Linked DNA regions of Homo sapiens. The protein of the gene in region 6 purifies or fractionates together with the protein of the main gene of each other region. This does not show direct contact. Each region holds a gene or a part of one and is shown on either strand. Other genes may lie near its edges. The genes, in order: RAB11FIP1, RHOBTB3, MYOF, RHBDF2, ERGIC2, RELT and AXL.

Evidence for each region.
Region 1: the proteins of RELT (region 6) and RAB11FIP1 purify together in Homo sapiens (affinity purification with mass spectrometry; 3 studies listed by BioGRID and IntAct, with this or other methods). This does not show direct contact.
Region 2: the proteins of RELT (region 6) and RHOBTB3 purify together in Homo sapiens (affinity purification with mass spectrometry; one large-scale study listed by BioGRID and IntAct). This does not show direct contact.
Region 3: the proteins of RELT (region 6) and MYOF purify together in Homo sapiens (affinity purification with mass spectrometry; one large-scale study listed by BioGRID and IntAct). This does not show direct contact.
Region 4: the proteins of RELT (region 6) and RHBDF2 purify together in Homo sapiens (affinity purification with mass spectrometry; one large-scale study listed by BioGRID and IntAct). This does not show direct contact.
Region 5: the proteins of RELT (region 6) and ERGIC2 purify together in Homo sapiens (affinity purification with mass spectrometry; one large-scale study listed by BioGRID and IntAct). This does not show direct contact.
Region 7: the proteins of RELT (region 6) and AXL purify together in Homo sapiens (affinity purification with mass spectrometry; one large-scale study listed by BioGRID and IntAct). This does not show direct contact.

What each region holds. Positions count from the first base shown.
Region 1 is NC_000008.11:37,888,857-37,893,421, reverse strand, and holds part of RAB11FIP1 (rab11 family-interacting protein 1), read left to right. Parts: intron 1-4,565. UniProt on the Homo sapiens protein: A Rab11 effector protein involved in the endosomal recycling process. Also involved in controlling membrane trafficking along the phagocytic pathway and in phagocytosis. Interaction with RAB14 may function in the process of neurite formation.
Region 2 is NC_000005.10:95,789,271-95,793,598, forward strand, and holds part of RHOBTB3 (rho-related BTB domain-containing protein 3), read left to right. Parts: intron 1-3,788; coding exon 3,789-3,904; 3' UTR 3,905-4,328. UniProt on the Homo sapiens protein: Rab9-regulated ATPase required for endosome to Golgi transport. Involved in transport vesicle docking at the Golgi complex, possibly by participating in release M6PRBP1/TIP47 from vesicles to permit their efficient docking and fusion at the Golgi.
Region 3 is NC_000010.11:93,377,031-93,381,595, reverse strand, and holds part of MYOF (myoferlin), read left to right. Parts: intron 1-199; coding exon 200-377; intron 378-1,608; coding exon 1,609-1,733; intron 1,734-4,166; coding exon 4,167-4,273; intron 4,274-4,565. UniProt on the Homo sapiens protein: Calcium/phospholipid-binding protein that plays a role in the plasmalemma repair mechanism of endothelial cells that permits rapid resealing of membranes disrupted by mechanical stress. Involved in endocytic recycling.
Region 4 is NC_000017.11:76,490,982-76,495,546, reverse strand, and holds part of RHBDF2 (inactive rhomboid protein 2), read left to right. Parts: intron 1-2,392; exon of another isoform or gene 2,393-2,485; intron 2,486-4,565. UniProt on the Homo sapiens protein: Regulates ADAM17 protease, a sheddase of the epidermal growth factor (EGF) receptor ligands and TNF, thereby plays a role in sleep, cell survival, proliferation, migration and inflammation. Does not exhibit any protease activity on its own.
Region 5 is NC_000012.12:29,336,276-29,340,501, forward strand, and holds the end of ERGIC2 (endoplasmic reticulum-Golgi intermediate compartment protein 2), read right to left. Parts: 3' UTR 1,077-4,226; downstream 1-1,076. UniProt on the Homo sapiens protein: Possible role in transport between endoplasmic reticulum and Golgi.
Region 6 is NC_000011.10:73,385,691-73,390,255, reverse strand, and holds part of RELT (tumor necrosis factor receptor superfamily member 19L isoform 1 precursor), read right to left. Parts: intron 1,145-4,565; 5' UTR 1,120-1,144; coding exon 1,075-1,119; intron 1,067-1,074; exon of another isoform or gene 1-1,066. UniProt on the Homo sapiens protein: May play a role in apoptosis. Induces activation of MAPK14/p38 and MAPK8/JNK MAPK cascades, when overexpressed. Involved in dental enamel formation.
Region 7 is NC_000019.10:41,256,672-41,260,258, forward strand, and holds part of AXL (tyrosine-protein kinase receptor UFO isoform 1 precursor), read left to right. Parts: intron 1-821; coding exon 822-958; intron 959-2,881; coding exon 2,882-3,233; 3' UTR 3,234-3,587. UniProt on the Homo sapiens protein: Receptor tyrosine kinase that transduces signals from the extracellular matrix into the cytoplasm by binding growth factor GAS6 and which is thus regulating many physiological processes including cell survival, cell proliferation, migration and differentiation.

The DNA.
Region 1 (4,565 bases), on a different chromosome or scaffold from region 6:
AAACAGGGATGATCCCTGCTTTCAGGAAGCCCAGAGCCTTGTAGGGGAGTAGGCATTAAACGAATGAACATGTAATCTCAGCACTTTGGGAGGCCGAGGCAGGGGGATCACCTAAGGTCAGGAGTTCGAGACCAGCCTGGCCAACATGGTGAAATCCTGTCTCTCCTAAAAATACAAAAATTAGCTGAGTGTGGTCGTGTGCACCTGTAATCCTGGCTACTTGGGAGGCTGAAGCAGGATAATTGCTTGAACCCAGGAGGCAGAGATTGCAGTGAGCCGAGATTGCTCCACTGCACTCCAGCCTGGGCTATAGAGTGAGATTCTGTCTCAAAAAAAAAAAAAAAAGAAAAAAGAACTCACAAATAAATAATCATATATTGTGGTAAGTACTGTGGAGAAAGAGGACAGGATATTATAGAAGAAAAGGGCAGGAAGGACATGATTTAAAGAAGGAGATTGCAGGTAGCCTCTCTGAGGCAGAGAGCTGAAGAAAGAAGAGGAATTTTTCTAGTGAGGAGTGGAGGAAGGGGGCCTGGTGGAGGAGTAGCAGCCTGTGCAAAGGCCCTGAGGCAGGAATACCTGGGAAGTGGGGGCGTGCTTGTGTAAGATGAGGCTGAAGAGGAAGGCGAGGCTTTACTTAGGAGGAATGGTAAGCCACTGAGTGTTAAAATTAAAAGCAGTGGGGGCTGGGCACAGTGGCTTACACCTATAATCCCAGTACTTTGGGAGGCCAAGGTGGGTGGATCACCTGAGGTCAGGAGTTTGAGACCAGCCTGGCCCAACATGGGCTCTACTAAAAGTACAAAAATTAGCTGGCCATGGTGGCGGGTGCCTGTAATCCCAGGAGGCTGAGGCAGGAGAATTGCTTGAACCTGGGAAGCAGAGGTTGCGGTGAGCTGAGACTGCGCCATTGCACTCCAGCCTGGGCAACAAGAGCAAAACTCCGTCTCAAAATAAATAAATAAATAAATAAATAAATAAATAAATAAATAAATATAAATAAAAGTAGTGGGTTGATACGGTCCAATTTATTTGTCAGAGATCACCGTGGCTCTTGGGTAGAGAATGGATTTGAAGCTGGCCTAACCTAGAATTGGACAGACAAAATGGGAGGCTGTTGCAGTAATCTAGATGGTGGATGGTGGTGGCTTGGACTAGAATGATGTCCAAGCCACCTGTGGAGGTGGACAGAGGTGGTGGATTTAAGAAATATCTTGGAGGTTCAACTGACCTGACATATGATGGATTGGATATGGTAGGGTGAGAGGGAAAGAAAGTAATAAGAATGAACACATAAAATCAGGAGAGCTTGGTGTTGAAAGTGAACCAGGAAGTGGCAGCTGCTTTCTTTCCCTTACAGTCACTGTGATACCAGGGTGAGGTCACCATTACAAAGACAGCTTTGGGCTGTGACACCTGTGAGTGGAGATTTCTGTTGGAGATTTCTGTTGAAGTGAATTACTAGGAAATGCCATTGAAACCAGGGCGTGTATGTATGTGTCTGCAAGTGATTACCCACTCAGTACCGCCAAGTCTTTGTCTTGTAACAGCAGAGCTGCTGTGATCTCATTGATGTGCTGTCACACAGCAGATGAAGTCACTGCTTTAAGGGATATAGGACTAAGAAAAGGAGAACATAATATATAACATTAGTAAAGTTAGACCCATAAATGAAAAAAAAATTCTCAAGTAAGTGAACCAGTTAAATGTTTTTTGCATTACGAACTGTAAGCATAGAAAAGAGTCTTGTGCCTTTCTCATTTTACTTAAACTGCCTTTGGTTACAAAGACTTCTATTGTATTTCTGTAACTCCCATCAGAGGAAGGTTTTTATAAATAGTATCTGATATGTCATTTTAATTGTAGTTATTAACTAAAAAATGTTATAATTACATTACAAGCAATCCACATGCTTATTAAAATGCCATCAACTCTAACATGTATTTGCTGACATTACTCTTCCTATCCCTTAACAATAATCTTAGACATCCATTAAGATACTATGGTTTTCATTGCTATACGCCCTGGAAAATTGTGCTTCTTACCCTATACTTTTGAAGGAGGGACAGCTAGCTCTGGCTTAGCTCCAGAAGGATTAAGAAGGTCTAGCCTTGAATAGAGAGAGTGATGGGAGGTCATTTTAGGCCTTATCTTCATCTCAGAGCACTTCCCTAGGTGGCCTTTGGTTCTGGGTCTGGCACAGATCTCTAGACCTAAGGGTCTCTGAATTACAACAAAATTAACCCCCAGACCCTTGTATTGGCAACGAGAGAGGTTTTGCTCTCCATAAGATGTCCTGGTTCAGATCTCATGCCCCAGCTGGCTCAGGAGGAGACCAAGCCTGACTTTGCCCTGTTTTCCTCTGGGACAGGGACCATGTCTGTTGTGTCCTTTGCTGTGTTACCCAGCGTAGGGGCTCAATAAATGCATCTGTGAGGGAGGCAGTGGTTGTGGTTCCTGTAGGCACAGGGCAGGCAGTAGATTGCCTGGGTGAACGTGGAGAAGCATTTAATCTTATGTTTAGCCTGGTAGATTACAGACTGGGGATGTCCGAAGTATGAAATCAAAGCTCTGCTTCTTTTGGTTTCCCAGTTTGGGGTATGGCTTTGTGGTCAGTGCCCTTTTCTTCTTCTTTTTTTTTTTTTTTTGGCAGAATTTTGCTCTTGTTGCCCAGGCTGGAGTGCAATGCCTCAATCTCAGCTCACTGCAACCTCCGCCTCCCAGGTTCAAGCAATGATTCTCCTTCCTCAGCCTCCTGAGTACCCTTTTCTTCTTGAAGAAGCAGGTTACTTTCTGCGGCTTGCTGGCTAATGATGCCTGTGGCAAAGGAGGCAGTTTTCACCACTAATGAGACAGAAATTCCTCTCCTGCAGGGAGACGATTGTTGATAATCTGTTAGAGGAAAATCAAGGGCTTTAGTCTCCAGGGTGTTCCTGGGGGACACATTTAGGAATGTGCCTGTGGAGAGAAAAAAGGCAATGGTAATTAAGTATCTTTTCCTGAATGCTGGCCTTTGAATGGAGTAGAGGGAAGGCATTTATAAGAAATCCCCAAAAAATATTTCTAGAGGTGTGACTGCCACTTCACTTTTTAAAAAAGGACATGGCTAGCGTCTAGGTAGAACAATTAAGGCCTCTAGAAAGCCTGGTCTAAAGAGGCCTCTGGTTATTATAAAAGAATGGGCATCCTGTGTGAAATACAGTAGCAGTCGACTGGGGCCCCAGATGTTTCTTCAGTCTGCTCCTTTCCCATGCAGAGAACTGTGACATGTGGTTCACCAAAATAGAACTTTTCATTTTTACTAATCATTTGTTATTAAAACAGGATTTAGAAATGCTTTGGTGAGGCCAGGCTCATGCCTGTAATCCCAGCACTTTGGGAGGCCGAGGTGGGTGGATCACTTGAGGTCAGGAGTTCGAGACCAGCCTGGCCAACATGGTGAAACCTTGTTTCTACTAAAAACACAAAAAATTAGCCAGGTATGGTGGCGGGCACCTGTTATCCCAGCTACTCAGGTGGCTGAGGCAGAAGAATCACTTGAACCTGGGAGGCAGAGCTTGCGGTGAGCCAAGATCCCGCCACTGCACTCCAGCCCGGGTGACTCTGTCTCAAAGAAAAAAAAAAAGAAATGCTTTTGGTGTAATTATTTTCCCTTCCTTTGGACTTACCTTGCTTATGGAATAAATCATAGATACTCTGCTTCCTTGCCAGAAACTCTCATGGCAAGAAGTATGGGAGTTTATGTGGTGAGGAAGGGCTGAGTGTTCTCTGATGTCAGTCATGCTGAAGTTTGTTTTCTTTTGTCCTGGTTAAGGGGTGGTGAACCAAACTATTGCATTTTATTTTTCCATTCTTAAAGTCTCTGTATGTGAGGACCCCATGGTTGCCCCAAGACAATATTCTTTGACAGAACAAATAAATGCATCAGTGGCATTTACATTTGAGCAAGAGGTGAGATACTGGATTTGATGGTAGAATATTAACATATGTGGCTTTTTGAGATAGGATCGAGCTTTGTAAAGAATTGGTAAGTCATGATGATGGGTGTGGTAGACTTAAATGTTTAAAAATGAGTTAATTTTTCTAATTCTTAGAGAATTGTTAAAATAAAGATGCTTGGTATTTCCTTTAGTCTTCACCTACAAGAAATTTAGTATTGCTCTCCACTTAGAAAACCTATCTTGATTCATAGACTTAATTATGCCATCTTGGCCTATTTCTGAGAGTTCGAGGGCCCTCTGTTTCTTGTCTCTTTCTTTTCTGTGTAGAAACCCTGAAGGGGTCCATAAGGATCATGACATCTCTCAATAAGTTGCGGAAAGTAAAGCCGGGCGCGGTGGCTCATGCCTGTAATCCCAGCACTTTGCGAGGCCGAGGCGGGCAGATCACGAGGTCAGGAGATCGAGACCATCTTGGCTAACATGGTGAAACCCCATCTCTACTAAAAATACAAAAATTTAGCTGGGCGCGGTGGCGGGTGCTTGTAATCCCAGCTACTCAGGAGGCTGAGGCAGGAGAATGGCGTGAACCCAGGAGGTGGAGCTTGCAGTGAGCTGAGATAGCGC
Region 2 (4,328 bases), on a different chromosome or scaffold from region 6:
TATTTAGCTTTATTGTACTGGATATCTGTATTTACTGAGTATACCTATATGGGAGTCCCTTATATTACTTTGGAATAACAGTTTTTCATATATAAAAAATGTTGTGAAACTTACTGGGAGTGTATGTAATATGCTTTCTAAGGTAAATTATAAAAATTAAAACCAAAGTGTGAACTACTGAGTACTGCATAAAAAGAAAAAAATGAAAATATAATAGTTGTCAGAATAGACAGTTTAGATGCAGTGGTTTGCTCATGTTATTATCTAGCATAGACTCAAGGAAAATTTGAGCTAAAAAGAAAAGGAAGTGAAAGATTACCTGATCAAGGAGTTTCACAATCTGGACAAATAAATCTCCGTGGAGATAACTGAAGTGTCTTCTAGGGTGGGGGACAGAAAGTAGGGAGTGGGTGAGGAGAAGGAGAGAGAGAGGGAGTAAGGGAAAGGGAAAGAGAAGGCTAAAATTTACAGTTCTTGGACTCTTCCCTCCCTCCTTCAGTCATAGTAGTTCCACTTTATCTGTTTCATATCTTGAGTTCTACCTAAAATTTTACTTCGTAAAAAAGACTCTGCTGGTAAAAGATATAAAAATCATATGGTCAAGATGGTGATTCCACCTCGGTGTAATCCCAGCCAACTTGGGAGGCTGAGGCTGAAGGATCACTTGAACCCAGGAGTTTGAGTCCAGCCTGAGCAACATAACGAGACTTCTGTCTCTAAAAGAAAAAAGAGTAAAAATCTCTTGTTTTTATTCAGCTACTTGTGCAGTTAAAGAAAACCCAGGAACACACAATCCGTTTTTGGGAGATGTATTCAGCCAGTCAACAAACATTATATGTCTATTAGGAGCCTCCTTATATAAGTCAACTATTAGTACAGTAGAGAAGCATAATCACATCAAAACAAAACAACAGTTATTTATTAGCTATGTACTTTGTGCAAGGAAAAAACAGTCAGTTCATAAAGATAAGGCTTGTGTATGCTTGCTGTCAGAAGGAACATTCTTCTATAGTTATTTAAGTAGCTGCTTCTATAGTTATTTAAGAAGCTTGCTAAAAGTTAAATGAATTGCACTTTGGTCCTGGAGCCAGTTTCATTATGTTACCTGAGGTCACTCTTATTTGTAAGAGAAGAATAAGATTATTTTCTACTTACTATCTTGTATAGATATATGGTATATATGGAGTACTATTACAACCTTGGGAGAAGGATGGTCTATAAATCCTTTTAGTTATGAATTTTCATTATATGGTATTACCCAATTACCTATAAAGTATGTTATGACACCTGGCATGGTGCAAAGCAGGACTTCCAGTGCGATGTGAGGTGGCAGGCTAAGGAGGAAACGATGTGTCGATGTTGCCTTCTGTTCCTTTGATGGGAATTAAAAGGGAATCATGAGAACTCTCATTCTGCAGTGCCTCTTCCTGTCCAGGGTCCTGCTATGAGGTGTCATCCTCTTGGGCAGAGGAAAAAAGCGCCTTTTGGATAAGGGAGAATTTAATTGTCTAAATCAATAGTTACTAACTGGCCATCTATGGTTTAGGTGTAGCCTGCCAACGTGTTTTATTGGGACCCCACAGTTAAAAATATATAGTACTGGTATTTAAAAATAACCATATTTTGGCTTCTTTTGAAAAATTGGAAGATCTGGCTACCCCAGGCCCATCATCCTAGTGGCAACATGTGGCTTGGCGCTGACGGCCCACCTAAAGGAGCATGCCCTCTCCAGAGGGTCGCAGTCACTTCTCTCCAGTGCTTTACACCTGGCCCACTGCACATGGTCACCTGAAGTTGGGAAAGTTTCTTGTCACGGTCACTCTACAGCTTCCTTATAGAACTGTCCATCTTCAGCTTGAAAAGTTCTCAAATTATTATTGGAATTCTACAACTTGTTTTCTGTTGACTGAGAATTTTTCATTTTTAGAGGTGTTTAGAAATCAAAAAGTGAGACTGGAAAAGATGTCATGTCAGTACAGGCACAGATACATCAGAACCCAGTTAAATAGGTCATTAAGTATTAGATTTTTATATACTGGACTCATGAACACAAACAGCGGTGCACAGGAATATGTTACCCTTGGCATTTATGGATTCATTATTCTCGCAGTTTAATTTAGCTCGATATTATGTGTTCTGTGTTATGGGGTTTTGTTTGTTTTGTTTTGCTGGCTGCCAGAGCTCATCTCTAATAACTTTTCTCTGGTTTTTAATATTTACTGAGGGAGTAGTCTCATGTCACCTTTGCTTCCTCTTGAAACTTAGAGCTGAGCAGCTAGTTTGTATGGTCCTGCAGGCTGAATCAAGACCCTGTTAATCTGACTTATAATAGATGAGGTTAAACAGTAGATGGAGAATCAAGTAATTCTCCTGCCTCATCCTCCTCAGTAGCTGGGATTATAGGCATGTGCCGCCACACCCAGCTAATTTTTCTTTTCTTTTCTTTTTTTTTTTTAGTAGAGACGGGGTTTTGCCATGTTGGCCAGGCTGGTGTCAAACTCCTGACCTCAAATAATCCGCCCGCCTCGGCCTCCCAAAGTGGTGGGATTACAGACATGAGCCATCGTGCCTGGCCTCCAGCAAGGTCTTTATGATCTATATCTTGAGTCGACCTCCTATCTCATTCTGTAACCTAGAATGCCTAACTGTCTGGGAATGCAGCCCAGTAGGTTTCAGCCTCATTGTCCCCAGCCCCTATTCAAGATGCAGTTGCTCTAGTTCAAATGCCTCTGACAGTTGTGCTTCACCAAACCTAGAGAATGAACAAAGCGAAGGACCTGGAGTTCAAGAATGGAGGGATCCAACTCCAAGGCAGGAAGCAGGTCCAGAAAGCAGGCAGGGCAGCAGCAACAGGGAAGAACAGCTTATCTGATGACTGGCTGGGTGGGAAGCACAACTGAGAGGACTTGAAGGACTTTGGAAGACTAAGTTAGCTACAAAGAAAACTAAGTATTATACCAAAAAAACTTATCCGGGCGTGGTGACAGGCGCCTGTAGTCCCAGCTACTCGGGAGGCTGAGGCAGGAGAATGGCGTGAACCCGGAAGGCAGAGCTTGCAGTGAGTCCAGATTGCGCCACTGCGCTCCAGCCTGGGCGACAGAGCAAGACTCCGTCTCAGAAAAAAAAAAAAAAGAAAAGAAAAGAAAAGAAAAGAAAAGAAAACTAAGTATTATAAATGGAAAAAAAAAATAAGTCCGTTATATCCAGGAAAAACAAAAGCTTTATTGGAAAAGAAAAGGAAGCCAGGCGTGGTGGCTCATGCCTGTAATCCTAGCACTTTGGGAGTCCAAGGCAGGCAGATCACGAGGTCAGGAGATCGAGACCATCCTGGCCAACAAGGTAAAACCCCGTCTCTACTAAAAATACAAAAAATTAGCTGGGCGTGGTGTCACACGCCTGTAGTCCCAACTACTCGGGAGGCTGAGGCAGGAGAATTGCTTGAACTGGGGAGGCAGAGGTTGCAGTGAGCTGAGATCACGCCACTGCACTCCAGCCTGGGCGACAGAATGAGACTCCATCTCAAAAAAAAAAAAAAAAGAAAAGGAAAATAATGAAATACTACTCGAAGTAGTGGACAAGATATATATAATTGTAAGTCACATAATAACTTAAATCCTGATACTAATTTAACCAAAATGGTAGTAAATTATTTGGGAAAACTTGTGGGAATGGTAGGAGATGTATCACAGAGCTGGATCTCATCTATTAAAGAGGAAATCAATAGCTGATATCTTAATTGATCCATAATAAAACATATTCGGTTAACAGTCTTTTTCTTAAAACTTCAGTGGAAGAACGCAGTTTTGTTGAAAAGCACAGATGGCCGTCGAATATGTACTTGAAGCAGCTTGCGGAATACAGGAAGTATATTCACTCCCGGAAATGTCGTTGCTTAGTAATGTAACCTGGAGCTTTTATACACTACATTTCTTTTTTATTATTATGAAGAATGGGATACCTCCAGGTTCCAGTAAAATTCTTCTGACCGAAACCAATGTGGGTGTTAGAAAAATTACCATATAGCTTAATATGTTTATTAGTTCTCTTTGGAAAAAAACTACCACTGTGGTCTTAAAAGGGAACAAAATATACCATAGGCTAAAACTAAGGCTTTCACTCTAGAATGCAAAGCTGTTTTGCAGCTGTTTTCCCTTAAAGATGTCCTGTTGCTTTAGTGATATTTAGACCCCTCTCAGTTAAGAAATGCTTAGATTAAAAAAAAAAAATTACGTAGGATTAATACAGAAATTTAATCATGTCTGATTAATTGCTCTATTAAAATAAGGGGCATTTAAAGACCCAGCATAACCATTTGTATAATGAGAAAT
Region 3 (4,565 bases), on a different chromosome or scaffold from region 6:
TGCTGCCAGGAACATCCTAGTGCTTCTATCTTTGCTCACTTGTATGAGTGCAAGAGGAACAGCTGGGTCCAAGAACATTCTCCCCTGTCATTTAATTCAGCACTAATTATTAGGTGTAGAATTGCGTCTCCTAGAAATCCACATGTAAATAAGAACAAATGGCCTTTCACTGAACCTTATGTCTGCTCATACTTTATAGAAATACCAGCGAAGGCGGAAGTACAGCCTGTCTGCCGTGTTTCATTCAGCCACCATGTTGCAAGATGTTGGTGAGGCCATTCAGTTTGAAGTCAGCATTGGGAACTATGGCAACAAGTTTGACACCACCTGTAAGCCTTTGGCATCAACAACTCAGTACAGCCGTGCTGTATTTGATGGTAAGATTGGCACTAACAGTTCTCTCCACACGTTTACAATGGGTGCACCACGGGACCGGAAGCAAGCACTGTGTCTTCCCTCTGGCACTGTTCTACGCAGCCTATGGTTAGTGGAAAGGAAAAGGTTGAATGAGGAAGAGAGTGTGGTTGGGGTTCAGGCACCTTAAAGACTGGCCAGACCCAAGAAGTTGCAGGTCCCATTGCCAGAGGCTGAACCCCAATGCTACCCTCTCCCCACCCAGCTTTAACAATGGTTTTGCCATGTAAGACCCCAAGGTAGCCACTGTGCTAAGTTCTGAGCTCCGCAAAGCAGCTCCTACCCCTACGAAGCCCCAAATCTTTCTTAGGCTGAGTAGTGGAAAATGAATGGGACTCTGGATCAGCTACTGGGAAATCATGCTTCTGGTCTTCACTCTGTTACTCACCAGCTTGTGACCTTAACCGTGTCACTGAATTCTAACCCTCAGTTTCTTCGTCTTCTCTGGAGTTGACATGAGGATTAAATAGCTGTATTTGAACAAAGATGGGTGAGAAACAGTCCCTGATTTTAAGGAGCTTACATTCTAGTGTATAAAATAAATCATAATAGAAAGCAAAGTATGAGAACTTCCAATAAAACTGTCAACAAATGGTTTGAGAGTACAGAGAAGGGAGAGAGGAATACTGATCAAATTTCCCAACAGTATTGCCAGAGTTTTAACTTAATTTTTGTACAAGCAGTTTTAAAATGTAAGACATCCTAGGAAACATCAGCTAATAATTCTTAATCACAGTAAGGCTCTAGTACCAAACCCTATGTAGCCAGCTAAAGCTTTCCAAGAACAGAAAATTCTTTTCTTTTGCCCCAGTTCCAACAAAAACATTTATTTAGAATAACAGTTTTTAGGGACTAACATGTTCAGTCTAGCTTCCTATGTCATCTGTATTTTCTACTACCACGTTAAGAAACCATCTTTGATGTTCAGATGCATGGCCCTGAATCACTAAACGATCCTGAGATTGCTGTGCTCAGTTTACTAGGGTGTCTCAGAGAAAATTTCAGAACAGCCTGAATGAAAAAGAGCTTCCTAGTCTTCAGTTGCTTAATTGAGTCAAATTAAAGAACCAGACCACCTCAAGCTATTCCCCAAGCCTGTGGATTAATCAGCAGCTCAGTCTGCACATCTCTTTAATAAACATGCTGTCTATTTTAAGTGTTCAGTGTTCATTGACCCCCAATGTTTTATACCAGGCAACTACTATTATTACTTGCCTTGGGCCCACACCAAGCCAGTTGTTACCCTGACTTCATACTGGGAGGATATTAGTCATCGCCTGGATGCGGTGAACACTCTCCTAGCTATGGCAGAACGGCTGGTAAGTTTCTCTTTTTCTGCATTTCCTTTTCACCAAGCAGGGTGAATTAGGTATTAGGATGGAGGCCAGGCCACTATAACACAAGAAAGTGCTTAGTACAGTGATCAATAAGGTAAGAGCAATGTCTCTAGGAACAGTGGAGGTAGATGGTCCTAAGTTAGTATGGAGGTTCAGTGGTATTGGAGACCCAGGCTCTTACCCCCGGTTGCTCTGCCATCACTCAGGAGTTATCATTGTCTGCATGGTAGAGGCAGCTCACTACTACATCTGCCCTCCAGCCTGAGGGGAGGGCTGGTAAACAGTGGGGAGAAGATGACATAGGCCTTTCTCTTGAAGGGAAGGATGCAGAAGTCATACTCTTAATTTCTACTCACTTTCCACTGGCCAGAATCCAGTCATACAGCCACATGTGACTCCAACGAAGGTGGAAAATGTTAGTCTTATGCCTGGGCAGGCATATGCCCAGATAAAAATTTTCTTACTTTGGAAGAGGGGAGGATTAAAAAGGTAGGAGTGGGGTGGAACAGGAACTCATAGTTTCTGCCGTAATTTTTGTGTAGAGAGAATGGTTCATTCCAATAGCAATATGAAACTCTGAGAACTTTGCAGTGGAAATCTCCACTGCAGGAAGAGGTAGCTTTGAGGAACCAGTGTCTGACACATTCCACTCTTGCTGCAGACTAGAGGAACTTCTTTTGTTTGGAGGTTGGGGATTTCCTTGGGTGAAAACTGCATACATATGATATCTGTGATTATCTGTCTAGTTGACATTGGTCAACTAGATTGGTGAGGAGAAGGGGGATATGTCTGTGATATTTCTAATTAAGCAAAAATACTAAGTTACTTGGGCCAGGTGCAGTGGCTCACGCCAGTAATCCCAGCACTTTGGGATACCAAGGTGGGCAGATCATTTGAGATCAGGAGTTAGAGACCAGCCTGGCCAGCATGGTGAAACCCTGTCTCTACTAAAAATACAAAAGAAATTACCTGGGCATGGTGATGTGAGCCTATAATCCCAGCTACTAGGGTGGCTGAGACAGGAGAATCACTTGAACCCGGGAGACGGAGGTTGCAGTGAGCCAAGATGGCGCCATTGCACTCCAGCCTGGACAAATTGAGACTCTGTCTAAAAAGATAAATATATACATATATATATATATATATATATACACACACACACATACACACACACATATACACATATACTAAGTTACTCCTATCAGGTAGTGCTAAAATCCATCTGGCATTGGTGTTTTGATTTCAACATTATGTTAATATTAATTTTTTAAAGATCTAATCTCTACCAGGGCTGGACCAAAACATATGGGGTTTCAGGAGTATACTTGATCTAAAACTCGACGGCAAAATCTGAAATATCATTTTATGTTATAAAGGCAATCTGGGAGGATAACTATAGGTTTAAATTGACTTAATCATAACTGTCCTGAAAATAAAGTTGCAATTGATAGGCAATGTACATCTCAAAGGCATTTGTGGAGAATTAGTTGCACCTGTGTTCTAATTGTGTTTGAGATGCTCTTCAGCAATTTTCATCCTGGTTCTTCTTATCAGCTCTCTCCACTGACCAGGCTGCCTAATCTGGACAGGATGGTGGCTTTCCCTTTTCCCTGATTAGGACTTTTGACAGTCATGGTAGGCTCTTCCTCAACTTCTCTGTTGGCAGGTGCTCAATGGAATAGAACCATATGTTTTGAGCTTATCTTGTACTTTCTCTGCCCCAGTCCGTAAATCGCTATTTCTCCAAGCAGCTTTTTCCTTTGAGTGGGGAATAGCATTTTAGAAACAAAATCTGGGTATACAGTGCTCACTACTACTGAAATATCATTGCTTCTAGGCCTTCTCAGCAAACGAATTTGCACAGACACATGTATGTCTATTTATTTCTATATCTATCAATATATTAAAAGCTATGACTTCATAAAGATACTTCCAATTCCAGTCCAATACCACAAGGTTTATCCTAGTCCTCTGTATTTCTATGTCTCTAACTTTCTTCTCCAACAGTGAGAAATCTGGCCTTTGTTATCCTCAATATATTTACTCCTTGGTTCAATCCTAAAATCTGTAGATAAACCACTGTGAAAAATAAGCCTACTAATTAGAGTTCAATATGTTTATGGGTTTTTTTTTTCTGCCTTTTAACAAAGTGTACATAGTCAAAATACTGTGTTCCAAAAGTTACTTGGGTTAGTTTAGTGTAATTATGTTATTCATCTGAAATGTAATTAGATCTGTTTTATTTCTGGTTATATTCCACTTTAGGGTTCCCTCTCCTATCTTTGCTGGTTTCATTTTATTTGTTTTTTGAATATACAAAAATATTTACATGATTTCACAGGTTAAACTATATGAAAAGGTATAATGGCATAATGAACAATTATCAATTATTTCCTCTCTTTTCAAATTCTTCAGCAAACAAATATAGAAGCTCTAAAATCAGGGATACAAGGTAAAATTCCTGCAAACCAGCTGGCTGAATTGTGGCTGAAGCTGATAGATGAAGTTATAGAAGACACGAGGTACAGTGATCTTACGCCTATCTCAGAATTTTCATCCAGGCGCTCCTCCCTGAAATTCTAAGACTGTAAATCCTGTGGAATTGTTTCTAGTGTTTGTCTAAGAAGTGATTTTGAATTATTCAAACTTCGTAAAAAGTCCTCACTGGGAGGAGTGCCTGAATCACCACCAGGAAAAGCTCCACTTTCTGATTTGGTGCCAGTTCTCAAGTAGCCTAGGGAGGCTGAGGCCCCACTCCCAGAAGCACGTCCCAGGCAGCCTCAGGCAAGGGATGGGGAGCGGAGAAAGAAGCAA
Region 4 (4,565 bases), on a different chromosome or scaffold from region 6:
TTCATGGTGACAAAGTCACATAGATCTTAGACCCTGGGAGGATACTAGCATCTTATGCATACACAAACTGAGGCTCAGAGATGTTAAGTGGCTTGCCCAAGATCGCACAGTGGTTAGAGATGGGCCTGTGACCCTGTCTTCTGCCATCGGGACAGATTTTCACTGTCTGGAGGCAGGTGGAAACCGGGTGGGCTCCTACTTTGTAAGCACAGGACAGTGCCCTGTCTGTGTACATGGGACAGTCACAAACGGAAATGGCCTGGTCACACCTTAGTGTCAAGGAGCCTCCAGCAGGAGTGAAACGGACCTCTCACACAGACCCCAGGCTGCATCTCATCCTGCCCCAACCGCTGGGCTTGTGCTGGACCACCACTGCTTCCAAGGACCCGTGAAAACCCGGCTGCCGGGATGCAGAGAGGCAGACTTTCATGAACGTTTGCAGCAAAGGGCAGTTCCCACCGAGCCTGTGTTGCTGTGGCACTGTGTGGTGCACACCCCACCCCGGAAACCCTCCAGTGTCCTGGTGTCTGACCCCAAATGGACAGGGCCTTTTGGCCCCCAGGGGCCACTTCTGACTCCTCCCCTTCACAACGATGCTGAGGGAGCAGGAGAACTGGGGCCCGGCTGCTGTGCGTGCCCCCTTCCCTTCATTGCCCCAAAGCCTGCAGTCCAGCCCCAGGCTCGGGAGCTGCTGCCTCTTCCCTGGGATGTGGAAGGCACCTGCATCCCCGCCCAGCTGCTGCCACTTGCCTGCCTCCATCAGCAGCTTTGTTTTATTTTGTCTGTGTGTTTTTTGAGATGGAGTCTTGCTCTGTCGCCCAGGCTGGAGTGCAGTGGCGTGATCTCGGCTCACTTCAACCTCCGCCTCCCAGGTTCAAGCGATTCTTCTGCCTCAGCCTCCTCAGTAGCTGGGATTACAGGCACCCGCCACCATGCCTGGCTAATTTTTGTATTTTTAGTAGAGATGGGGTTTCACCATGTTGGCCAGGCTAGTCTAGAACTCCTGACCTCAGGTGATCTGCCCACCTCAGCCTCCCAAAGTGCTGGGATTACAGGTGTGAGCCACTGTGCCCAGCCTCCACCAGCAGCTTTTGAAATCCAGAAATTTCCAGGGGAGGGCACTGTGGTGGGTGGGGCCCAGCGCTGTGTCCAGCTCGAGGCCTGGCTGCACTGCCACCTCCTTTGGTGCCCACCCCTGTGTCTTGCCAGCAGCTGCTGCACATTGGGCTTCGGGGATGCAGGACTCCAGCACCCCCAGCTCAGCCTGCTTCCTGGACCAGGAACCCCAGCCGAGGAGGGGGCATTTGTATCTCTGCCATCCCTGCTGGCAACTGGTCCTGAGAAAGCCCAGATGGTTGGTGCAGAGGGGGCGTCAGGGGCTGCACCACCCTAAGAACATGACATGTCACCCCCCAGCCCCCCGCAACACACACACACAGGTTCACACCTCACACCCCTGATCTTGGCGGCTCCCTGGAGCACAGCACCCGCTTCCCGTGTCTGTGGTTGGCTTATGACGCCCCAGCCACTCTAACCGGGTTAAGGGGAGCCCAGAGCCTGGGGCCGGATAGGAAAAAGCCCAGAGAAGTCAGGGGATGGTCAGTCCCCTGAAGCTGCCCCTGGGGGTTCTTGATCTTCTGAACTGAGTTCGAGGCAAGCCCTGGAGGGGCGAGGAGGAGAAAGAAACAGCTCTCTGGGCCAGGACCCGCTGTTCGTGGGATGTCTGGGGAGCTGTGTGAACCCACAGGCCGTTTTGTTTCTCTCCATCAGCAGCTGTGGGCTGAAGCGTGTACCGGCGGAGTGGGTTGAGATCGTGTCTGCGCCCACTTGCCACCAGCTCCGGCCTCTGGGGAGGTGGTGCTGAGAGGGAGGGAGAGTGGCTCCTGTTTGGCTCCTGGAGACAGACAGCTGGGTGTCCCACCCTCAGAGTCCCCAGCCCCCTCTCCCCTCTGCTAACTCTGCCGGTGGAGCTCACGCCGCAGCTCATGCCAACCCTGCCCTTCTGTTTTGCCTCTCATGACTCTCCCCAAATTCTGCCCCCAGGCCCCCAGCCAGCCTTCTTGCCACTTTCCTGCCCTTTACTCTTGCCCCTTCTACCTCTTGCCAGGGCAGCGTCACTGGCTACGTGAGGCCCAGCTTGGGGATGCATGGGGAGGTGTAAGAACAGCTGTGCCATGAGCTGTCCTTCCGGGCCTCTGGGGCTGGAGAAACCCCGGGGTCAGCAGTACCACGGGTTTTGCTGGGGATTGCACAGTGGGTGAGGCTCAGCTTCCTCTTTGCAGCTTTCTAAAAATGCCCTGGTTCCCAGCAGGGCCACAGGCAGGGAAAATGAGTTTCAGTTTCTGTGGCAAGGGAGCTGGGGAGAGAAGCAGTTTCCTTGTCCCCAGCCCTCACCCTAGCATCCTGTGATTCAGCCGCGAAGACGTGGCCCCAAGCCTCCCACCGCCCTCCTTCTGTCCTGACTGCCCACTCCCAGGGACACCAGGTGACGCCTCGCCCACCCGCGGCTCCGGAGCCAGGCTGGAAGCAGCTTCCCGCCCAGGGGGTGGTTTCCCCACATCCTGTCTTCAGATGGCTTGAGCCCCCTAAACTTCCTGGTCATATCCAGTGGATAATAATGGTCTCCCTCTTTCCTGTCTGGAGGGGAGGGGGCTGCTTACTTCTTATCCAAGGGCCTGTCCCGTCCCACCCCTGTGTCCCCATTTCTGGCCACACGCAGGCTCAGCCCTTGCATCAAGCCTCTGCCTGTTTCCCTCTGGGCTGCACCTGTCACGCTCTCCCTGCCCTGCCCCATAAAGCCCATAGAGCCCAGGGCTTGTGGGGACTGCACCCTTCATTAGCAAGACTCAGAGCTTCTAGAAACCCACTTGTGTGGGGGTGGGGAGTGCAGGGAGATTGGTGGCACCAGGTGGAGAGAGGGAACTGCACCTGGGGGAGTTGGGAGGGGCAGTGGGCTGGGCCCGCGTGGAGGAGTGTGGCTTGTACAGTCCGCATGGCGGGGGGACCCTTGTACCCTGCCTGGACTGGCTGGTAGAGCTGTTGGGGACCTCCCTGGGGGTGGCCTTGCTTACCCAGCTGTGCGGAACAGGCTTGGTTGGGAGTGCCTGGCCTCACCCTTTGTGGGGAAACCAGATTCTCTGGGCAGCAGTGGTAAATGGTGTCTGAGTCTGTGTTTCGTTGGATGTGTCTGAGGTCCGCTGCTGCCAGCTGGGTTATGCTGTCTCCAAAGCTATCTGCAGTGGGGGAGGCCCTGAGCCTGGGCAGGGGAGGGTACAGAGGCCTCAACCCATGGGACCTGGGGGTGATCTGAACTCTGCACTTCACTTTTTTTCAGGATTTCCCCCGCCCCACCCTAAAGGAGGAGGAAATAGAGTCTGTCCCACCCTAAGCCCCAGTCCCTCTCCCCAGGTCTCTTTGGCATCTCCCAGCTGGGCTGGGGCTGAAGGCCCTTCTCTGGGGTTGGCCACAGTGAGGCCAGGATCTGGCTGGGCAGGTGGCAGTGTTCCGCCTGTGGGCTGGGTGCGGAGGCGGGCCTGGGGGTCTTAGAGAGAGAGCGGCGGATGTGACTGCGGGCCAGGAGGAAGCCTGGTCCCAGGATGTCACCATTTCCCCTGCAGTGAGCAAGCATCTCTAGGGCTCGGAGATAAGTGCTGGGTGGGGTAGCTCCAGCTCTCCAGCGCTTTTTTCTGTCTGGTTCCTGCCATCTGGACTTGAGCCATGAGGAAGGCCAGAGTGGGTCTGACAGTCCCCACTCCTTTCCCCGCTGAGCCCCAAGGAAGGGGCTGGGCCTTTGCACCCCCACCCCAACTTCTGCACGAGTTGGAGGCAGTTGATCTCAATGGTGGAAAGTGGCTGGTGCAAAGTCATGCTTCCATACTCCATGTTTAGGCTTCATGGGTGTCAAAGCTGGGCCGTGACCTTGTCCCATTCCCTCAGAGAAGGGAACTGAGGCCAGAGGGTGGAGCTGCTCTCAGGCCGCTGCCCAGGCCTCTTGTGCTCTGCGGTTCAGATGGCACTCCCGATGCCAGGCTCCTGCCCAGGAAGACATGCCCACCCGCCCTGGCCCTGTCTCTGCTGTCTGGTGTCAGGCCACCTCTCTTCGGGACCCCCCCCCAACTGATTGCCCTGGGGCTGACCAGGCTCTCCTCTCCCTCAGTGTTGGGTTTTGGGAGCCTCTCTCATCAGGAGGTTGGCACAGATGCCAGCCATGCAGCGGATCCTGGGCAGGGGTCTCAGCTGGGATGGCCTGGCCTTGGGACAGGGAGGCTGGCTGGGCAGAACCCTAGAACCAAAAGCGGTGCCTGTGGTGGGCTAGGGAGCTAGGTGGGGAGTCTAGTGGGGAGTCTAGTGGGGAGGTCCACTAGACACTCGTTCTGGCACAGCATGCAGCGTCCTCCATCCTGGCCCTGCTGTGGGTACGGAGCCAGCAGGGCAGGAGCTCTCAGTGGAGCCCTCCAAAGAGGGCTGCTTCCTGGACCAGCTGCAGGATGAGGGAGACCCCTTCTGTCCAGGGCTGACATAGGCTGACCACCGCCAGCCCCACCCTCTCACTAGCTTCCCATTCA
Region 5 (4,226 bases), on a different chromosome or scaffold from region 6:
TCAAGGTAGAGACTGGTCTAATAATGCCCAAAGAGCATGTTATCTTACAATAAACATAAACAATTAAAGTAGATCAGCCTAGTTTCCAAAAACATCAATAATTTTCAAAGTTTACAAGAATCACTTGTAAATTTCCACATGGCTACTCTTCTAGAACTGCTATTCTAATAATGTCTGGGAACATAAGCAACTGCCTATAGTAAGAAGTAATGATTCTCATATGCCCACATAAAGGTATGGAAAAATGCTCACTGCCTAGATCGCTTAATTTTTTTTTTTTTTTGTAATTAACTAAGACTAGTAATTGCTGGTTTTCAGATGTAACTGGTTTGAGAGACAGTAGTACCGTGCAAAACGGAGATACTACTGTGGCAAAGGATGCTTGAGTTTAAATAGCCAGAAACACCTTTACCGATACACAAATATTTTAGATGTGTCCCTACTTTATTTGAAATACTGATTCCAACCTGGAACTGCAAAAGGGATAGGAGATGTGATTGATACGGCAATTTGGGTCAAGTAAATGTAAGTACAGTGTAAGAAATCACCAAATTGATTTACATAACTGCTTGAAAACAAAATACAAAGCATTTATTAGTTATGAGCTGTTGTTGAAGGTCTGCTTTAGTATATAGCTTTCACTAATGTATACTTTTCCTCATGCCTTCTCATCCTTAAGTTTCTCCTTATTAAAATAGTATAAAATGAGTTATATTTGGAAAAGTTAACCTAACTCCTTTTGTGAAACACAAAATATTTGGAGTTGCCAAAACTATTTGAATGTTTCACTGCTTGTAATCTTGTTTGTATTCAACTGTTAACATATATATATATATACATATAATTTTGAGTCAACTACTCAATTTTCACTTTTTCATCTTTAATATGAGAAATATAAAATAAACCCTGTATCATATAGCAATTTAGCTCCATCTGGAAGAAAAGCAAATGTAACCATGTGATATCTTAAAATTCCTGTAGCTTTCCTATGAGAAAAAAGTTTAAATATGGGAACTGAGGCTTATTTGGGGGTACATGATTTTAATTTTCTCCTAGTATTAAAAAGACAAAAAAAGTTTCATAATTTGTCATTTATTGAGTCCAAATGTTTATGCTTGCAATACTAAATATTTTGTTTTTTCTCTCAAGACAAAAAAAAAATCCAAGGCAGTCTGTTTTCTCCTCTTAAATGTAAAGTGATTTCATCAGTAATATTTCAGAAAGTAGAAAAAAACTATGCTTTGATTGCATCATCACAATATGGGGGGGATACATGGATCTTGATCCGGGCATTTTACCATAAGGTAGTAAACAACTGGTGACCTCTCTATTTTGATTGTGTTGAAAAAGGGCTACCACCTTGGCTTGCTGAAGGTTTGCTAGAGCTCAAAACAGGAAAAGTACTAGCTTAAAAGGCATGCTGAGATTTTAAAGGTCCTAAAGCTCAGGTTTAAGTAACTTTTAAACAATCAAAAATAGGCATTTTGAATTCAAGTGTAAGCTCTGAATTTTCAAGGAGTTTCATATTAAATTACTTTTTGGTACTTGAATTACTAACTCAGGACATAGATGGAATGCACAGTGTATCTCTCTTACACTATTAAAAAATTAGATCTGTCCAGGGGCAGTGGCTCATGCCTGTAATCCCAACACTTTGGGAGGCCAAGGTGGGCGGATCATGAGGTCAGGAGATTGAGACCATCCTGGCTAACACAGTGAAACCCCGTCTCTACTAAAAATATAAAAAAATTAGCTGGGCTTGGTGGTACGCACCTGTAGTCCCAGCTACTCAACAGGCTGAGGCAGGAGAATCACTTGAACCCGGGAGACGGAGGTTGCAGTGAGCTGAGATTGCACCACTGCACTCCAGCCTAGGCGACAGAGCGAGACTCAGTTTCAAAAAAAAAAAAAAAAAAATTAGAACTTAGTCATTCCTTCATGAATTCCAAAATTAAGATTGTATTAAAGACTGTAAATCTTGTTTGCATTAGTAAATTTTTAATTATAAAAATTCAATGCTATCATAAAACATACATGAGAAAAGTGTGATATTAATCATCTAACTTGAGAACTAGAAGTAATTTGGGTGCCAGGTGCAGTGGCTCGTGCCTATAATTCCAGCAATGCAGGAGACTAAGGTGGGAGGATTACTTGAGTCCGGGAGTTGGAGTCCAGCTTGAACAACACAGCAAGATACTAACTATATAAATGAAAAAGAATTAGCCAGGTTTGTTGGTGCATGGCTGTAGTCCTACCTACTCAGCAGATGGAAGCAGGAGGATTGCTTGAACCCAGGAGTTCGAGGATGCAGTGAGTTACAATCATGCCACTGCACTTCAGCCTGGGCAACAGTGCGAGACCCCATCTCTTAAAAAAAAAAAGAGAAAGGGAATTTTGCAATACTAAGTTAAGCTTTTCCTAAGAGGTAGTCTGAAGTGTACAAATACTGCAGCAGGGAATTATTCACCTAAATATTTAATCTTCTTTATAGGTCAATGTATGCAAACACAGTATTTAAAAATCCATTTCATATAATTTGAGATCTCATTTTTAAATATGTAGTCTGGAATATAAACATATAGATATTATGAATACTCTTGTAAAACAAAAAGGAGAATTGGGTAACAAAGTAGGGTATCCTGGCTGGAGGCACCTCCAGGCATAGGGAAAGTTGCATAACAGGTAGGTGAGTAAAGTGCTCTCTGCAATAGAAAAGAATCACTTGGTGAGGCCAAAAACTCCTAACAAATCCTAATATGCAGGTAAACTTCATCGTCCAAAGGGCTGATCGGAATTTTAATACTTCCATTGCCAAAAATCTGACTCTATTTGAGGAGTTTCAGATGGAAGCCTTTAACTTTTAAAATGGAAATCAAAGGCAAAGCAGAATTTTGCTTTAAAGAAATTCCTTTCATAGGAGATAAATTTCATTAAAATTTTAATATGGTATTTGGAAAATACGAAAACAATTAAAAATCATATATAAGTATCAAAATAATTTTTAAAGTCCTTTTTAAAGGCACTTAACTGTTCTAATCCTAAATGAAAGAAAATAATCCTAAATCAATATTGTTCTCCCTCCCATTTAGAAAAAGCCTTGAAACTCGATTGAATTTTCTTCCAAGCATACTTAAAGGACCAACAATCAGTCTACAATTCTAATCCTTTCCTATTAAAATTCCTGTGGATAGATGGTGTTAGTTTATAGCCAAACTTTGTTGGAAATAATTTGAAGAAAAAAAATTAAAACCTAGAGAAGGCTCATTCACGATTCAGAATTTTCTGTTTAAAAATCTTTCAAAGTATGTTATATCACTTATTTTCATCAGTTAACGTCATGGCTCTTAATGATATATTTTTTAAAGTGATGCTTCTGTTATTTTCTGCAAAACGTCATTCTGCATAAACTTTACTGCAAAACAGACCCATCACTATTTCTCCTTCTCTCCATTATATTGTTTATCCTGTTTTCATAAATTTATCTTTAAAAAAATCCATTTGAAAAACTGTTACTTGTGATATCCTGTTTTCTAAAACCACTATTTTAAATCTAGTTTTTCAGTCTTGTTATTTACCTGGAATTTTGTTTCCCCATTTCCTTAAATGATTTAAACTTTGAGGATTGGCTGCTGATTCTTCTACTGCCATTCAGTACTACAAAAGGAAAACTGATATTGGTACACATATTCCAAATACAGCTTTTAATAGTACCTGTGTGATAGCTCCCTCTCACTGTTTTTAATCTTTTATAATGTGAAGATTTAGAACCAATCCTTAAATAGTAAGAAAGTTAGAACACAATCTAATACAGAATCAATCATATTCAGGACACCCTGAATGCAAATACTTCATAATACAGTTTTATAGTTTAATGGACAATGTTTAACATGGCACCTCTCAAATCTGATATATCTTGTGGTGCTTACAATTTGCCTTACACTTTCATTTAAAGTTACCCTGTTCTCCACTCACCACATGTATAAAATATCCTATTTTTTCTCTTAATGTTTTACAAACCGGTAATTTTCACTATCAGTAGCGGATCTTTTTATAACTCACCCTATGTTGCCCAAAATACACCAATAATATAATGATTAGATTAAAAAACTTGGCATCTTTTTTAAAAAAATGTGCTTTCTTTTCCGTGTATAAGATTCTACTATACCATTTGTGAATGACACCCTAGTTACATAACACCTACATATCTGCCCCTGTGAGAATTTACC
Region 6 (4,565 bases):
AGAACGATGAGGAGGAAATGCTTCCGAATCCTCTCTCGTATTCTGCCCCCACTTCCTCCTACTTTGGGTCCATCCCTGGCCCCATCACAGCTGGGCATATCATTAACCAGCCTCATTTATAATCCCTGGAGCCAAGTCTGCAGGTGGCGCTTCCTATTCTGGGCTCTCCCTTCAGCGAAAGTCTCCAGGACCACATCCTCCTCTGCAATCTTCCCTCAAGGCGAGGCTACCCCATTCACACCCACACACCCAAACAGGGAGACGCATCCCAAAAGAAAGCTCCATCTTCTCAGTGTGTGTCCCCAGCCCATTTCACTAGGAGTTCTCTCTGCTTCCCATTCTTAGGAATGAACTGTCTCTCCTGAATCCCTCCTAGAGTCCCCCAATTTGGCCTAGGCTGGATGAGGCTACCATCAGCTGCCCTGGAGATGGAATAGGGATCTCCTCAGACCCCAGAGCGGCTCCCAGCACCTGCTAAGGCTGGAAGGCCTCCTGTACATGGAGCAACCCTTAGCAAGGCCCAAGGCCAAGTCTCACCCTCCCTGAGCTTCTAGCGTCACAGCAGAAAGATGGGCCCCAGGGCAGACCCCAAGATGCTGCAAGTCTGTAATGTGGACTTGCCTGCAGCTCCGGGCAGCTGGCCTGATCCTGTGATCCTGGGACCTGGAATCTGGGATCCCCCAGACCAATACAGATCTTGAACCCCAGCACCTGAGGTGCTATGGCTCTCAGGGTCCAAATCCCAGGCCTCTTTTGCCCAGTTTCCTCTTGGTGCCCAGCATACCCTCTGGGCTGGGCTCCGTTCTCATGCCTGCGTGCCAATGGGCATCTTGCCCTCAGCCATGCCTGCCTTGCCCATAAATGCCAGCAAGCCCTTCATTCTCCATCTCCCTGACAAGCCTGGGTGGGCCCAGAGGTGCTTCCTAGGGTCCAGCTGCCTCAGATTCTTGACGAGCTGAGTAACTGAGCCCTGCCCAGCAGGGGGTTCCCCGGGAGTGTCTGCACCCTCTTGCTGGAGGGCTGCAGGGCTGAGGGTGCGGCTTTTCTCCTTCCCAGGGCCCATCCCCAGCTCACCATAAGGAAGCAGGACAGGGGCCGGCACAGCAGACTTGGCTTCATCCTCAGGCCCCTGGTGGTCGCCGGCCTAGGGCAGATGGAGAGGAGGCTCGGCAGAGCGGCAGGGACAGGCAGGCAGCTGCTGTCCCCTCAGCACCACTTCCAGGATGACAGGACTCATGGGGAGCAGGCAAGGTGCTGCTGGGCAGGCAGAGCCCGGGGAGGCCGGCTCCACACCCGCAAGCACAGGCCCAAGCAGAGGGGGCTGCCCTGCCTGGGAGCCGGCCTCACGGGGCAGCACAGGCAGGAAGGCAGGAAGAAGGCTCTGCAGGCTGGGAGGCTTCCCAGAGGAGGAAGGGCTTCCTTCCCCTTCCTTAAACTGCCAGGTGCCCCGAGGCATCAGCAGGGGAAGGAAGCGCGTGTGGCGGCCTGTGTCCGTGATGACAGGGTTGCAACCAACACCCAACACCCCAGCCCGGCCTCCACACTCCAGCCCAGCGCTCCAGGCTCAGGCTCCCCCCGCCTCCTCCTCACAGGTCTGCAAGCATGCCCGGCCTCTGCCTTCACTCCTGCTGGTTCTGGTCCAAGGAAGGCCTTTTCCTTTACCCTTCAAAGCTCAACACGAAGGCCTCTCTTTCCAGAAGCTTCTCTAGAAGCTTTCCCCAAAGTGGGTCTGGCTCCCACAGCTCCCCACCCCATCTAGGTCCTGGTCCTTCTGCATGGCCACTGTCCACACCTCTTCCAGGGAGGCTGACTCCTCCCTTGAGGCTGGAACATGTCTGGCCACAGCTCTTCCCCTGGCAGACCTATGGGGCTGGGGTGGTCACGGCAGCCAGTGCTCTGTCTTTGTCATCTCTCCAGCACCTACTGCGTGCGGGCACTGGAGAAATCGGTATGAACAAGACAGACAAGGTCCCTGTCTGCAGGGAGCTCCATCCCAGGGGAGACCCAACTGCAAACAGAGAGGTGCCCCTGCCATTTGGTGGTAAGTGCCAAGAAACGAAATAAAGCAGAGTGGGAGTGCAGTGTGTGATACTTCAGAGAAATATCCATGGTGGCGTCACGGCCCACCGGTCTGAGACTGAGGCCCCCAGGCCCAGACGGTGGCCTGCTCTGGAGAAGCCTCCGGCCAGTGGACGAGGCGGACACAGCAGGACAAAGGATTCACATCAGACAGCAGAAGGGACAGGTGGCAGAGCAAGGAAGTCCGCTGTGTACTTCCTGGAGGCCTGGCTTCAGGGGCACGAGGCTGAGGAAAGCCGTGCTCTTCAGGCCACACGCAGCCTCTTAAGCCCAGGGGCAGCCTGGGAACCCAGCCACTGGCTCAGGGCCGCCGCGGCTGAGGCCCCCGCTGTGACTCCAAGGCCGGTGAGGTGAGAAAAGCGCCTCCTGTGGTAGTCCCAAATCACTCAGAGTCCTCTCCCTGCAGGCAGCCCGGCCCTCCCACCTAGAATAGCAGCCCAGGAAACCGATCTGTCCACCCGCCCTCCCTCTTGGCAGATCTCAGAGGGGCCCAGGGTTTGAGTTACACTCAGGGGAGGGAGTGGGCAGCAGTTACATCATCTCAGGACTCTCCAGGTCACTGGCAGCCACTCTGGGTCCCAGGCCAGCTCAGGGGAAAGCCAGGGACAGGAGAAGGTAGGGCCACAGTATAGGGTGGAGGCCACACCTGGCAGTCAACACCCAACAGATGGCACCCCCAGGCTATTTGGGGAGGGTCCCCTGTCACTCCTTAAATTTGGTCACAAGTCTTCCTTCCAGTTTCTGCCCCAAAGTGTCCTGTGCCCTTGTCAGGGCCCAGCTCCCACCTCGAGCCTGTCTCCCCATGGCCCCTCCTCTGTCCTTTGAGGGATCTAACCCACAGACCTGACCACGAGCCCCAAGTCCTCAGGCTTCACTTCCCCACTAGGCCTGACTACGCAAGACAGAGCCTGATGCTGGGGGTGGGGGCAGGCTGTGGCAGGCATGGTGGCTCACGCCTGTAATCCCAGCACTTTGGGAGGCAGAGGCAGGTGGATCACGAGGTCAGGAGTTCAAGACCAGCCTGGCCAAGATGCTGAAACCCCGTCTCTAGTAAAAATACAAAAATTAGCCCAGTGTGGTGGTACAACTTGTAATCCCAGCTACTCGGGAGGCTGAGGCAGGGGAATCGCTTGAACCTGGGAGGTGGAGGTTGCAGTGAGCCGAGATTGTGCCACTGTACTCCAGCCTGGGCGACAGAGCAAGACTCCATCTCAAAAAAAAAAAAAAAAGACAAAGCCAGGGGGAACCGTGACCAACCCAACAGCCCAGCCCCCAGCTCTAGCAGCCCTCCATGTCCCCAAGGTAGGCCCAGAGGGCTGATGCGGGGGTGAAAAGAGGCCAAGCAACCACAGCAGAGAGCCCTAGAACCACCCCAACCCTGGGTGGCACCTGCTAGGTGACCTGAGCCCACAGGGAGCAGCTGTGCAGCTGCTCATCTGCAGACAGACGCAGAGCTGTGTGATCTAGAACCTTCCAGGAAGAAAGCGGGGTCCAAAGGCCCAGACTCAAAGCCAACGAGGGCCCACTCCAGCACACGCATAGACACTGCCACCTAGGGCCTTGCACCTTCTAATTACGCACCTTCTCATTACCCCAAACCAGCACTTACTCCAGTCTGGCTGCCCGGCCCCCACACTCAGCCCAGACTGAGCCCCCACTGGACTTGCCCGGTCAGGTAGAAAGGCCTGGTGCACACACATGTCCACACCTGCTGCTCAGCACCCCTCACACCCTGCCCCACAAGGCCTCCACTGTCTAAAACGGCCCTGGAACCGTGACCAAAAAAACAGTTAGATGGAAGCCCCCTCGGCTGGGAGGGGATATCTGAAGGTCCCATATCCGTCTCTGCCTCATCCTAAAGGCTGGGCAGTCAGTGAGGCCCCAGAGCCTCCGATGCCTGACAGAGGAGAGCCACACCCAGCCACACTGGATGGGGAGGAGGGGCCCCAGGGGGGTAGCAGAGAAGGAACTTGGCTTAGAGGCCACTCCTCCCATGTCTCCTAGCCTGGGGCCCAGTCTCCACTGCCACCAACTCCCTTTGGGACCTTCACATCACTGGGTCTCAGTTTTCTCATCTACAGAGATGGGGACGTTCATCTTGCTGGCATGGCTGTCGCGAAGTTTTTGGGGAATTTCTGTTTTGTTTTTTCTGAGACAGTGTCTCACTCTGCCATCCAGGATGGACTGCAGTAGCACGATCACAGCTCACTGCAACTTTGAACTTTTAAGTGATCCTCCTGCTTCAGCCTCCTGAGTAACTAGGACTGCAGGCATGCCCCACCATGCCTGGCTAAATTTTTAAATTTATTTTCTGTAGAGACGGGGTCTCATTATGTTGCCCTGGCTGGTCTCCAACTCTTGGGCTCAAGCGATCCTCTCGCCTTGGCCTCCCAAAGTACTGGGATTCCAGGTGTGAGCCGCTGTGCCCAGCCAGTCATGGGGTTTAAAGGAGGTAATGAAGCTAAAGTAGGTCATGGGATTTCCTT
Region 7 (3,587 bases), on a different chromosome or scaffold from region 6:
CTATGCCTGGGTGGCTGTGGATGCAAGGGTCACAGGGACATGTGGGCTTCCCTTTGCAGGGGCTTGTCCACATGGGCTGGGCATGTCTTGGGGTATGGTGGGCATCTCTGAATAGTGGTGTGTACATGCCCAGGATAAATACAGGCCCACGTGTGCATGGTAGCAATGTAGACAGTTTAGGTTAGAAGAAGCTGCAGTGATTATGCGTGCATGTGCGCACACTCATAGAATGTGGACAGCCAGGGTGTGCAGAGTGGCACATGAGCTCATGTGTCCATGAAGTGTGTATATGTGTGTGATGGTGAGCATGTGTATGCATCCACAAAAGTTACTTATTCATGTGTATACCCGTGTCAAGTATTTTTTATATATATATATTTTTCTTTTTTTGAGATGGAGTCTCGCACTGTCACCCAGGCTGCAGTGCAATGGCATGATCTCAGCTCACTGCAGACTCTGCCTCCCGGGTTCAAGCAATTCTCCTGCCTCAGTCTCCCGAGTAGCTGGGATTACAGGCGCCCACCACCATGCCTAGCTAATTTTTGTATTTTTAGTAGAGACGGGGTTTCACTATATTGGCCAGGCTGGTCTCAAACTCCTGACCTCAGGCAGTCCGCCCACCTCAGCCTCCCAAAGTGCTGGGATTACAGGCATCAGCCACCGCACCCGGCTAAAGTATTATGTTTCTATGAATACTTGTGATGCTCCCAGAGGATGGTTGTGAACATGTGTACATAAGTGTGGGTGTACCCATGAACCTGGGTATTGGTGCGGGTGATTCTGTGCAGGAGAGACTGTCTAATTCCCTCTGCCCCTCACAGTGGTCCTTCGGGGTGACAATGTGGGAGATTGCCACAAGAGGCCAAACCCCATATCCGGGCGTGGAGAACAGCGAGATTTATGACTATCTGCGCCAGGGAAATCGCCTGAAGCAGCCTGCGGACTGTCTGGATGGACTGTGAGGACCCTTAGGTCTCCCCCAACCCAGAATTCATTCCAAACCCCTGACTACCCCCAGATGGCCCTCACAGGTCCAGGACTCTCTATAACCCAGACAGAATCCCTGAGAATGCTGAGTGACCCACTTGCCCCTCACCAATGCTCTGAGTAGGGCCATCACTAACCAGTGGGGTGCAAATCAGCTAAAGGCACCCTTTCCTCCTTTGTCTGTGTGGGCTGAATCAGCCCCCTGGCTCCCCACCCCCAAGCCAGGTATCCTTGGGTAGTGAATAACAGCACAGTCTTACCTGGCGGCCCTGCCTTTGGGACATGCACTCCCAGAGACTTCTCATTCCAGACTCCTGAGCACACCATGCTTCCCCGACATGCTCCTCAACACCTGAGACTCTCTGCAAAACCCTTCAGTTTGTTTTATTGGCCTTCTCCAGACTCAGGTCTCCTCTGAGATATTTGCAGGATCCTTCAGGGAATGCTTACCAAACTTTGCAATATTGGAGTATGCGGAGAAGGCCGTGACATTTAGCTAGCACTTTGAGGGTAAAGAGAGGATGACTTTGGGTCAGGAGGAGACAGCCTGGGGCGTCAGACTCCTCAGTCCACCTTGGGTACTCCAAGAGCTGAGACGAGTAAAAATAACAGCTAACATTTTCATATAACTGACTAGAAGGCACTGTTTTAGGTGCCTGGCATGTGTCAAATCATTTGGTCCTTACCACAGCCATGTGATGTAGATAGGTATCATTATGATTCCCATTCTGCAGATAAGAAAACCCAGTCCTACAGGGAGGGTAATTTATTTTTATTTATTGACTTGAGTCTCGCTCTGTCGCCCAGGCTGGAGCACAATGGCTCCATCTCGGCTCACTGCAACCTCCCAGGTTCTAGCGATTCTCTTGCCTCAGCCTCCCAAGTAGCTGGGACTACAGGCGTGTGCCACCATGCCCAGCTAATTTTTTTTGTATTTTTAGTAGAGATGGGGTTTCACCACCTTAGCCAGGATGGTCTTGATATCGTGACCTCATGATCCACCCGTCCCAGCCTCCCAAAGTGCTGGGATTATAGGCATGAGCCTCCACGCCCAGTCTGGGAGGGTGATTTATTTGCCAAAGATTGCACAGCTGGTGTGTTTGTTATCTATATCCCCAAATCAAGTAGTTTAAAACAACAAACGTTTATTATCTCACACAATTTCTGAAAGTTGGATACTGGGAACAGCTTAGCAGGGTGATTTTGGTTCAGGATCTCTAATGAAGTTACAAAGATATCACTGGGGGCTGCAGTCATCTGAAGGTTGGGACTGGAGGATTGCTTTCAAGGTGGCTTACTCACATGGCTGTAGCAGGAGGCTTCAGTTCGTTGCCATGTGGACCCCTTTGTGGCACTGCTTGAGCTTACTCACAACATGGCAACCCAGGAGAAAGTGCGAGGAAGCCACATGCCTTTTATGACCTAGTCTCAGAAGTCACACACACCATCACTTCTGCCAAATCAGAAGCAAGTCACTAAGTCCTGCCCATGCTCAAGAGGAGAGGATTTATTCTCCGTCTTTTGCAGGGAGGAGGGTCAAAGAATTTATGGACCTATTTTAAACCAGCACAGCTTGTAAGTGGCATAGCCAGGCTTTGATGCAAGTCTGTTCTGGGGAGCTGGAAGGTCTGTTCTAGCAAACCCTCATCAGAATACTACTCCATATACAGACAGGTTTCCCGAGACCCTTCCCAGCTCCTGAGTCTCCCAGGACCCAACTCAGAAATTCTTGGGAATTCCCAAATCCCCATAGATGGCCTCAAACTGCTGAGGCTCCCTATAACCCTCTAAAATGCCCCCAGTCCCCTGAGTGTCCTAAAATGTCCCCAGGCTTCCAGAATGCACCCCTTCTGAGTCCCTGCTCAATCTCCCACCCCTCATTTTGCTGCCCTAGGTATGCCTTGATGTCGCGGTGCTGGGAGCTAAATCCCCAGGACCGGCCAAGTTTTACAGAGCTGCGGGAAGATTTGGAGAACACACTGAAGGCCTTGCCTCCTGCCCAGGAGCCTGACGAAATCCTCTATGTCAACATGGATGAGGGTGGAGGTTATCCTGAACCCCCTGGAGCTGCAGGAGGAGCTGACCCCCCAACCCAGCCAGACCCTAAGGATTCCTGTAGCTGCCTCACTGCGGCTGAGGTCCATCCTGCTGGACGCTATGTCCTCTGCCCTTCCACAACCCCTAGCCCCGCTCAGCCTGCTGATAGGGGCTCCCCAGCAGCCCCAGGGCAGGAGGATGGTGCCTGAGACAACCCTCCACCTGGTACTCCCTCTCAGGATCCAAGCTAAGCACTGCCACTGGGGAAAACTCCACCTTCCCACTTTCCCACCCCACGCCTTATCCCCACTTGCAGCCCTGTCTTCCTACCTATCCCACCTCCATCCCAGACAGGTCCCTCCCCTTCTCTGTGCAGTAGCATCACCTTGAAAGCAGTAGCATCACCATCTGTAAAAGGAAGGGGTTGGATTGCAATATCTGAAGCCCTCCCAGGTGTTAACATTCCAAGACTCTAGAGTCCAAGGTTTAAAGAGTCTAGATTCAAAGGTTCTAGGTTTCAAAGATGCTGTGAGTCTTTGGTTCTAAGGACCTGAAATTCCAAA